2 separate regions of the Homo sapiens genome follow, and region 2 is linked to region 1. Evidence: fine-mapped expression QTL. Tissue or cell type: whole blood. Region 1 holds a variant in brackets; the other region holds the start of a gene. All regions are shown on one strand. Distances are between the middles of the regions.

Region 1 (5,148 bases):
TCTCCCTCAACTCAGTTTCTTCCAGACCTTTTTCCTGTGCATTCTTTTTTCTTTCTTCTTCTTTCTCTTCTCTCTTAGCGGAGCCTCCTCCGGCTGAGAAGTAATCTGTGGGGAGCCCGAGGGGTCTGTACTGTTCAGGCCCTGGAAAGAGATGAAGGTAACTGCCTGCTGATAGGGGCACTGCACCATTTGGGATTGCAGTAGGGAGACCCCACTCCTCAACTGGAGGGATTCATAGAGGTCACACCCAGGGCTTCCTTGCTGCTTTTTCTGTCACCTCCCATGCTGTTTTCTTCCCTTCGGTGTAAGCCAGCCCTCTCTTTTTGTGGTAAGATGACTATGGGAGTCCCAGGCTGGAGGCTGACTCTTTGCACCCACTTCCCACACTTGTTTCTGACAAGTCTGATCTGTGTAGCTCAGCACATCCAAGGACAGCCTTCCCCTTGGCTTCGTTGTCCAGATGCATGACCCCAATGGCTTTGTAAATGAAATGGTATAATCTCAAGAGGCTAGCCTGCTGTAGAGAGAGGAATAAATAAATCAATATGTAAATAAATCCACAAGAGCAGAGGGGATGTACCGGGACTTTGCAAAACTATGATGAAGCATTTTAGAAGATGGATATTGCTGTATTTCTGGTGAGCTCTGATTGAAAGGCTATGATTCCAGCCATGGGCTGTAGGAGAGGGAAAGTGAGCTGTGACGGAAATTCCCTCATGGATTGATTTGACTTAAATATATTCCAGGAGCTGATCTAATTGCTGGTTCAGTCTTAGGCTTTGATTTTCCTTCTCACAATTCCCTGCATTTCAAATAGTTTTTATTAAGGGGCCTGAGCTGCCCTCAGTCCTACTGAGAATCTTTCTGGATATATGACTAATTTTTTTTATTTATTTATTTTATTTTTTATTTTTTTGAGACAGAGGCTCGCTCTGTCACCCAGGCTGGAGTGTAGTGGTGTGATCTCAGCTCACTGCAACCCCCATCTCCTGGGTTCAAGTGATTCTCCTGCCTCAGCCTCCCAAGTAGTTGGGATTACAAGCACACACCACCACACCTGGCTAACTTTTGTATTTTTAGTAGAGACGGGGTTTTGCCACGTTGGCCAGGCTGGTCTCGAACTCCCGACCTCAGGTGATCCACCTGCCTCAGCCTCCCAAAGTGCTGGGATTACAGGCGTGAGACACCATGCTTGGCCTGTGACTGATTCTTCTGAGAACACAGTACTAGAAATACTGCCCTTGGTCAAAGGAAGAACCAGACATTCCCCACCTGAGAAGGAGAAGCATGCTGGTAATTTCCAGGGGGACAGGTAGTTAGTTATTCTTATTTTGAATCAGAAGTGCTGGTGGCAGCCTCTTACTGTTCAGACTCTGAGACATATTGGTTTGGGGGTACAGTCCAGGAAAAGGTGGGAGGAGAACTTCCAATCAGGTGAGTCTTATGCATGGAAGGCCCCAGACACTGACCCCTGGAGTCTGACCCCTTGATCTTCTCATCAGTTCACAGCCCTCTACTCCACCCCTGCTGCCAGTCTCCTCTGCCTGACCGCCTGCCTTACAATCCGATTTATATTCTCTTTCTCTCTCTCTCTCTCCACACACTTCCTCCTCCTCTTCTTCTGGAAAATTTCAAGCATATACAAAAGTAGAGAGAATAATATGATGCCCCCTTTACCCATCACCCAACTCCAACAATGGTCAACTCACAGCCACACTTTTTTTGAGATGAAGTCTCGCTCTGTCACACAGGCTGGAGTGCAATGGTGTGATCTCAGCTCACTGCAACCTCCACCTCCCAGGTTCAAATGATTCTCCTGCCTCAGCCTCCTGAGTAGCTGGGATTACAGGCACACACCACCACGCCTGGCTAATTTTTGTATTTTAGTAGAGATGGGGTTTCACCACGTTGGCCAGGCTGGTCTCGAACTCCGGACCTCAGGTGATCCGCCCTCCTCGGCCTCCCAAATAGACTTATTTCAATTACATGCCCAGCTGCTTTTACCTTCACTCCTTACCTCTTGCTCTACCTGGACGATCTTGAAGCAAATTTCAGATATCATGTAATCTGTAATTAGTTTAGCATATAGCTCCAAAAGATAAGGACTCTTTTGGATATAACAATTCCATTATTATACCTAACAATAAGAATAATTCCTAATGTCTCCAAATATCTGGCCAGTGTTAAAATGTCCTCAGTGTCTCCATTTATTTTTACATTAGTTCAAGTCAGGATCCAAATAATGTCCATACATTATAATCAGTTTATGTGGCTTTAAGTCTTTTCTTCATATAGGTTTTCTTTTGCTTTCAAAATTTATTAAATAAACTAAGTTATTGAACTATAGTTTCCCATAGCCTAAATTTTGCGGATCACCAGTCCCTGTGGTATTTTTTTAACACATTCCTCTGTCCCTGTTTTTTAATTGGTAATTAGATGACGAGATTTGTTGAATTCAGGTTTGATTTTTTTTTTTTTTTTACAATAATGCTTTATAGGTAGTGGTGTGTTCTTTCATCAGAGAGCATATAATGTCAATTTTGTGTGTGTGATATTACCAGCCTTTGAGTGCCATTGTCTAAATCTATTTCATGTATATCATTAAGTGTTATAAAATAGTGACATTCTATCATTCTCTTCATTTATTAGCTAGACTGCTTCTATAAAGAGAAATTTCCTCCATTGATCAATTGGTCACCTTTATATCACTTATCCCTGGGAAATCTTAGGCCACACAGCCAGAATATGAAAGTGCTTTGTGGCCAGTGTCCCTCAGACCTCAAGGTAGATTCTACAGGAGGAAACGGAGTTACCCCTCAACCTTCCCTGGGCCCTCTGTGTTCACTTCTTCAAAGATATTTTAAAATCCATTTGCCAGCCAAGATATTGGCCCTGCTTCAATGCAATATAGGTTTTGCATTTACCAATGGGAAAATCTAGAT[A/T]AATTTGAGTAACTCAGAAAACATTTCCATTCAGTTGTTTTAGAAGCCACCCATGCAGAGTCCAGAGCTGCACCTCACACCGGTGTAGTGTGGCCTATCTACATGATGCTTAAGCCATGTAGGTAGGAACCCACACTTCCAGGGCTGTCCTACTGGTTGCATGATAAAGAAGATCTATCCTCCGTTTTGAAGGTACTCAGTCTTGATCCTGAGGAGGAAGAAAGCAGAGAATCCTCCATGCAGAGAGGTCTTCACCAGCTAAGGACAGCAGTGAGGCCAGAGCCCAGCTGCTCACCTTGTGCCACCATCCTTGCCCACTGACCATGATGGCTCTAGTTGCAGCACCACTACTGCTCACACCTGCCCTGGAACAACAGTCCTGCTACCCAGGATTCCTTGCAACTGTAGAGAATTGTAGGCTGCAGCTGGGTGATTTCACAACTTGCTTGCCCACGCCTGATGGGGGACACAGAGGTGAGTCTTCTCACACAAGCTGTCAGTAGTCTACTCAAGAGTTGTCAGGAATGAGGGAGACCCACTCAAGCAGATAATATCAAGCAGCGAGGGCTCTGGGACAGGGACAGACCAGCCACTTGCATCTGACGAGTGAGCCACAGTAAACTGACCAGTACTGCAGCCACACACTCAAAAGCATCACTGGCTATTGGCTGCATCTGCTATCCAGCCCAAGCTGGGACTAGGGTTGCCTCACTAGGTGTATGAGGAGAAGCAGTGGCAGGAGTATAGTAGCTTCTTTATTTTTCCACCCAAGCAGGCAACTGCAGAGAGAATGCAAGGAGGGGTATAGAGATGGGCACAACCCCCCTTTGAATGCCATCATGAAACATGGCGCTTGGGGACCCAGTCAGGTGGGCCTTGTGTCCACCTATAAGAAACATAGGGAAAGGAATTAACCAGCTGTACTAGAGCCTTTTACCTACCACCTAAATTTCCTCTCTGAGCCAGAGAGTGTTTCTGGCTTCTCACCAAAATGCAAGGAGATTTTGGTTAAAATCCATCCCATTCCAAATTTGTGAGACAGACTCTGGTTCCATAGGCCCAATACACCACCTGCTTCAAATGGTCGTAGTCCAGGTGGTTGTATCTGCCAAGCACCCACAACAGCAGCAGGGTAATGGGGAGTGCTGGTGGAACCTTTCACCTATAGGATGCTTGGAGTCTTACCTGTGGAGTTTAAGGCGGGTGGCAAGGGTTGGAGGGGAGGCATACATGAGAGCTTGGTATTGTTGCTCACCTTATGTTCATGTTTTTATTTCCTGCTGATAATTAGATGTAGCTGGCATGAGTCCCATAGCTCTGCCAGCTTCACTTCAGTGTCTTGGTATCAATGGGCCATGCAAATACCCTCATAGCCCACCTGGATAGGAACCACGCAAATTTGCAACCTTTGAGCCATATTGGAACAGAACTTGTCAAGTATAAGGCTGATTTCCAGAGGCTCATACCCAGGTTTGCAGGAGTTCAAAGGCATATCAATTCCTTGCCATTTCCCGGGGACTTTCTTTACAGTGAGCAGCTCAGGATGAACCAGGCCTGTCAGGAGCCAACATGGTGATGATGCAGGGCTGCCATTTGCTTCTACCTGACACTAGCATTTGGATCAGCTCAGATCATTCCTAGGACATACAAAAGTGGCCCTGGTGGGCACACAGCCTCCATTCATATCAGGAATTAGTAGAAGACAGTAAGTGCAGTGATTATTAGTGCTATTCACTAAATATTCTCGGTTCTCCAGGCTCATGGTAAAATTGCCTTTCCTGATCCCATTGGGTTTGGGTGGAGCCATCTGCTAGCTTTGCCAACGAATTGTGAGTAGAAGTGACAGAAGTTATTTCTATGCCCAAGTATTTAATTGCTGGGCAAGACACTCCTCTGCTGACCATGATCTCTCTCTGTCCCTTTGACATGACAACTGGTAATGTTTGAAATGGCTGCTACTCTGTCAACCTGGGTCTCAGAGTAAGGAGCACAGAGGTGAGCCCTTCTGACCCCCACTGGATGAGTAGCATTACCAAATAAACCTAGTTTGCTATAAGCGGCCAAGATTTGAGGATCATTTTTATCACAATATAAGCTAGCCTATACTGACTGGTTCAACTGATCAGACATGCTTGGGACAAAGCAGCTGTTTAGGATGACCTTGAAACTATACAGCCTTCTTGAAGTTCCAGGGTCTGATGTAAGC
Region 2 (5,148 bases), 78 kb after region 1:
GAAAATCTTTTCTCAGATATGCTTTACTAAACAAAGAACAGGTTAATTACTCAATGATGATTTTTAAAGGGCATGTCGACAGTGTCAGTGACTTTGAAACAAAGTAAAGGAGCTGAATTCAAGTGTGTGCCTGAGTTACTTAACTATCTTGAACTGATTTAGGATCTGTAGCTTTAATCTGGGGCTCCATCTACTAGTGGTTTAATAGAGTGGGTTTTATTAAAATTGTGATTTAATCAGAAGCCAGAAATATACAACTGTTTTAAACTTTTTGATATTAACCTGATATACACAGTGGGCTGATAAATTAGTGAGACAGTTCATATAAGTCATATATGAAAATCAGTCTGTTATTAGCCACAACTCATGTATTTTTCAAAACTTGGAGATAAATGTAAGCTTCATCTCAGAAGTCATATTACACGTTATAGGTTTAATATAATGAAATTTTTCCAGACTTAGAAAAGATATCAGGAAATTAACATTTGCAAGGCAATTTACAGTTTTCAAAGAGCTTTTCTCATTAATTATCTCAGAAAACTGAATAATGATGTGATTATTAAAGGTTAATTAAGCAAATACTTGTGAAGTAATTGGGAGGTAATCTATTTCTAATTTAACAGGTCAATCACGGGTATTTAGGAAATATTTTTGCTGGTTAACAACTCTAACCAAAACAAAAAGGTATTTAAATGGTTTCCCTAGTGAAAAACCATAAGCATGTGTTTCCTCTATTAAGTCAATTGTTTCAAAGAACTAGCATGAGAATTCCTAATTTCACCGTTTTGATGATTTAAGGTTTTATGAAGATTCTGAGCTCTTCCCTCCCGACGTTAATCCATGTCTTACATTGTTCATTTTGGCGCTTTAGAATAAAATATCTTTGGAAAGTAACTATGAGAAAGCACAGAGGGATATGTTAGTGAAATAGCCATTTTCTTGTGGGAAGCAAGACATTTCGGTTATCGACTACACAGAAGAGTGAATAAAACCCAACGCCTATCAACCACCAAACGTGACTCTGCTTGCATAATCATACAAATAAATTTTCTTTAAAAATTTTTCATGGGTGCAGTATATAAAATGATCAATAGTCTCATCAGCAGTGGAACTACAAACTGCTTTCTCCTAACTTTGTGTAGCCTGGGTGCTGCCTCACGATTACTAAGTGGTTTAAAATCATATCCCACTTGCTCCTTGGTTTATCAGCGAAAGACGTGATTCCCAGGTAGGAAAACGCCAAGTGTCCCGCAAAGGTACAGGTAAAACGTAGCAGTTACTGCGAGAAGACTGGCCCCGGGGAGTCCCAGGGCTCGGTCGGGGCCCCCGCACGAGCTGAGGAAGTGGACAGCGGGCACCTTTGTCTGTGCCTAGTTCCCTGGACCCGGGCCGAGCGATGCGGGTGGGGGCGCGGTTCGGGCGGGTCCCGGCGCTGCCCGGGGGAAGCGCGCGGCGACGGCGGCCCGGCTTGGGAGCCGGAGGTCAGCGGCTGCGCGGCCGGCCCCCTCCCACGGGAGCCGCGCCAGGGCCCAGCAAGAGTCGGGCGGGATCGCTATTGTTTTTGGCGAGCACATAAATCCCCGGGCCGACCCACTGCGCACCCAGGTTTCCTCCCGGAGGCCTTTCGGTTTCCTCTGAGGCCCTATATAGAGGCTCCAGGCCCGGACTGTGCAGAGGTGCGCGCCCACGCCGGCCTCCCGGACCAGCCTGAGCTCGGAGCGCCTCTCGCCCTCAGGTCTCTGCAGCCAGAGGCATCTGGGGAGGTGAGGGGGGAATTTGTCCCCGAGGCGAGGAGGAGGAGGCGGGGGCGCGCGGAGCCGAGGGGCTGCGGCGAGCGGGCGGGAGGAGCAGGAGGATCCGCTTCTCCGGGGTTTCCCTGACGCCAGCAGCAGCGCCCGGCGCGCGCGCCCCGCACCCGTCAGCGGCTCCGGGGAGAAGGGGGAGGGGAGCGGGCCCGCCACGGCCCGAGAGGCGGCAGCCGGGATTGGAGCGGGGGCGGGCCGCGCGCGGAGCCGAGGGGGTGCGGGCGAGGCGCGCGCGTGCGCGTGTGCGCGCCCGGGACTCCCGCCCCCCGCCCCCGCCCCCGCCCCCGCCGTCCGCGGTCTCCGCCCCCCTCGCGCTGGTGTGTGGAGCCGGAGTCGGCGGCGGGTGGCGGCGCCTGGAACCTGGAGACCGACCCACCGCCCCCCCCCCCCCGCCCCGGAATGTACTGACTCCCCTTCTTCGCTCTCCTCCCCTCCCCGCCCCCTTGCAGGAGGGAGGCGCCCTGGAGTCTCCCCTCCAGCGAGAGGGGCTGCGCGGGCCGGGCCGGGCCGGGCTGGGCTGGAGCAGCGGCGGCCGCGGGAGCCGAGCTTGCAGCGAGGGACCGGCTGAGGCGCGCGGGAGGGAAGGAGGCAAGGGCTCCGCGGCGCTGTCGCCGCCGCTGCCGCTCACTCTCGGGGAAGAGATGGCGGCGGAGCGGGGAGCCCGGCGACTCCTCAGCACCCCCTCCTTCTGGCTCTACTGCCTGCTGCTGCTCGGGCGCCGGGCGCCGGGCGCCGCGGCCGCCAGGAGCGGCTCCGCGCCGCAGTCCCCAGGTAAGCGGCGGGCGCGGGCCCGGGGGTTCGCGGGGGCGCGGCACCGGCTCAGGCGGCCGCGGCTGCGGTGTTTTTGTTTAGGATCCAGGAGGAAACGTGCAGGAACTTCTCTGCCTCGGCTCCGGTTGCCGAAGAGAAAGGGGATCGCGCGTGGTGGGGAGGAGAAGGGCGAGAGGGGGCGCCACCGGGGAAGGGGCGGCTGCCGGGGGGCAGGTCGGGGGCGCAGGGGTCTAGTTCCCAGCTTTGTACCTGGAGGCAGGTTCACCCCTCGCCTCTCTCCCCTCCCCCAGGCTCATCCCACTTGTAAGAGTGGGACATTCTTGTGCTCACACTAGCACCAGTAGAGGCCACTACACACCTCATTAAATAAACAATCAGACGGCCAATTCATTAATTTTCAGGAAAGGAAAGGGGAGGGGGCTTGAGCTCCTGGTTCCCTGGCCAGGGATTTCCCAGCTTCCGAAGTCTCGAGGAAGAGCTGGCTAGTCTCGAGGGACTCCTCGCGCGGGGATTGGAGCCCGAGTCTGCGGAAGAGCGGGGGTGTCAGAGGGGCACAATTGCCCGCTCACAACCCCTGGTGTTGATTTAACGATGAGGACGCCTTGGAGAGCGGCTCGGAGTGATCGTATCTGTTAGTGTTTCCGTTATGAAATGCCTCTTCTTTCCTGGGGATTACAACTATATTTACAGCCTATTAACCACTCTTAACCAAGGGAATTGTCTAAGCATCAGATTTTAGGTACTTGTACAATGTTTTCAGATGGCATTGTATAAACATTGAACCTCAAAAGCCATTTTCAGTTCTTTTTTGGAATATTATAGATTACTGAAACCACCTGCATTCCTATTAAGGGGACCAACGAACAAAAATGCCAAGCCTTCCGGGAAGGACCTTACGGTATTGTTGAGCAGGATACACTCAGCAGTTGAAAGGCAAATTAGCATGTAATCTGTTAAAATTATTTGACCAAGGTGGTGTACCATAAAACTTGACAAAACTTTCACTCGTGTGAGATATGATATTTTTACATTTGAAAGCAGTCTTACCGCTGAACCAGTACTTGTTTTTCCCTGATTTATATGAAATAATATTTAAAATCACACTGCAAGGTAACTTGACTGATAAACTTTTCATTTCCTTGCAGAGTGTGTATGTAGCTCATGGCTTTTGCCAATGTTAAAGAACAGCTTTAAACGTAAAGTACCACTCGGTATTCTCTAAACAGCTACGTAAACAATAGTGTTTTAATGTCAAATTAAACATCACTTATGTCATGATGTACCCTTATACATTCAGTCCGTATATGGTTTAGAACACATTTTGGTGCTGAAATGCAGGTTACTGATCCAACTGTCTCTTAGATGAGCAAGAGAAATATAACTATTTTGGAAAACAAGTTCCTGTTACTCATGATCTATTTTATATGGAAATTCATATGTAGTTCACCAAATTTCAAGTTTTTGTTTAAAGTTTTGCCGATAATTTTGTAAGTAACTAAAATGCTAGTAATTTTATTACTTAGGATAATAAAAATAATGCAAGCAGTCTCAGGAAGTGGTCTTAACATCTGTTTCAACATTAACTCAATTGACAGGTTTTTATTTTGCACAGATGAGGTGCAAGGCATATGCTCTCTGCCTTCATGGAGTTTACAGTCTGGTGTGTGGGTAGGAAAGATAGCCATCCATCTACTGATTATATAATTAAGTAATTGTGATAAGCACTACAAAGGAGAATAGGTTTTCACAAAGTGGGTACTGGAGTGACATAACCTAGTCTGGGTGTTAAGAGTGTCTCACAAGAACTGAGATCTGAGGAGTGGGTAGGAGTGGAGGTGGGGAGGCTCACAGGTAATTAGTCGTTTAATTGGGTCTAGAACATAGATCTCCTGATTCTCGGTCCAGAGTCCTTCCTGTAAACCGCTCTGCTTCATTACAAAAGCGAGAGGAATAACTGCAATAAGGAGGGGTTGGTCAGTTCTGCCATAAAACTGCGGAAGAGATCAAGAGACTGGAGAACTGAGTAAGCAGCAACTGGAACAAGCTGTCCGCAAATCAGATGTCCTTTGTCAGTAGTTTTATTTTTTTTATTTTTGTAGAGTGATAGACTTATAAATCTTTTTATAGGGGATTATAGTGAATAGATTGTAGGGAAGTGGACATGTTCAGTAGTAGAAGGTGGAGAAAAATAGAGATGTGGGACAATAGGATAAATGGAAAGTGTTTTTCCATCTGAGGTTATAGACATACGGAGGTGGAGGAAAAAGTAAGAAGTAAAGGACTGGTGATAGAAAATGGTCAGCAAGGGAGGAGGGTTGGAATTGAGTAGGAACATAATCTGGTATTCTGAAAAAGGGCAGATTACTGAAAAGATATGTAGAGACCTTGGGGAAGATGACATGGCAGCAGCCTGTGCAATGCATGTCTTCTCTATTTAGAGTGAACATTCTTCACCGAGGACTCTGTAGCTTCTGCCTGAACCATTTATTTCATGATGTGATTCATTGCCTTACAGGGTAGTCCATTTCTGTGTTGAATAACTTCTGTTAGAAAATGTTGCTTTGTACAGTAC

What was found. PIP is the estimated chance that this variant, and not a neighbour inherited with it, causes the effect.
Region 2: NEO1 starts here. The variant in region 1 is fine-mapped to the expression of NEO1 in whole blood (INTERVAL, PIP 0.96).

What each region holds. Positions count from the first base shown.
Region 1 is chr15:72,972,046-72,977,193 of GRCh38, forward strand. No RefSeq gene overlaps it. Among named protein-coding and RNA genes, the nearest start is that of NEO1, 78 kb to the right of the region's middle. The variant A/T (reference allele first, on the strand shown) is at 2,943.
Region 2 is chr15:73,050,230-73,055,377 of GRCh38, forward strand. NEO1 (neogenin 1) reads left to right here and starts at 2,234. Exons shown (of 29, transcript NM_002499.4): 1 at 2,234-2,576. The coding sequence starts at 2,447. RefSeq lists silencers at 1,354-1,403, 1,464-1,533, 1,624-1,943, 2,174-2,553.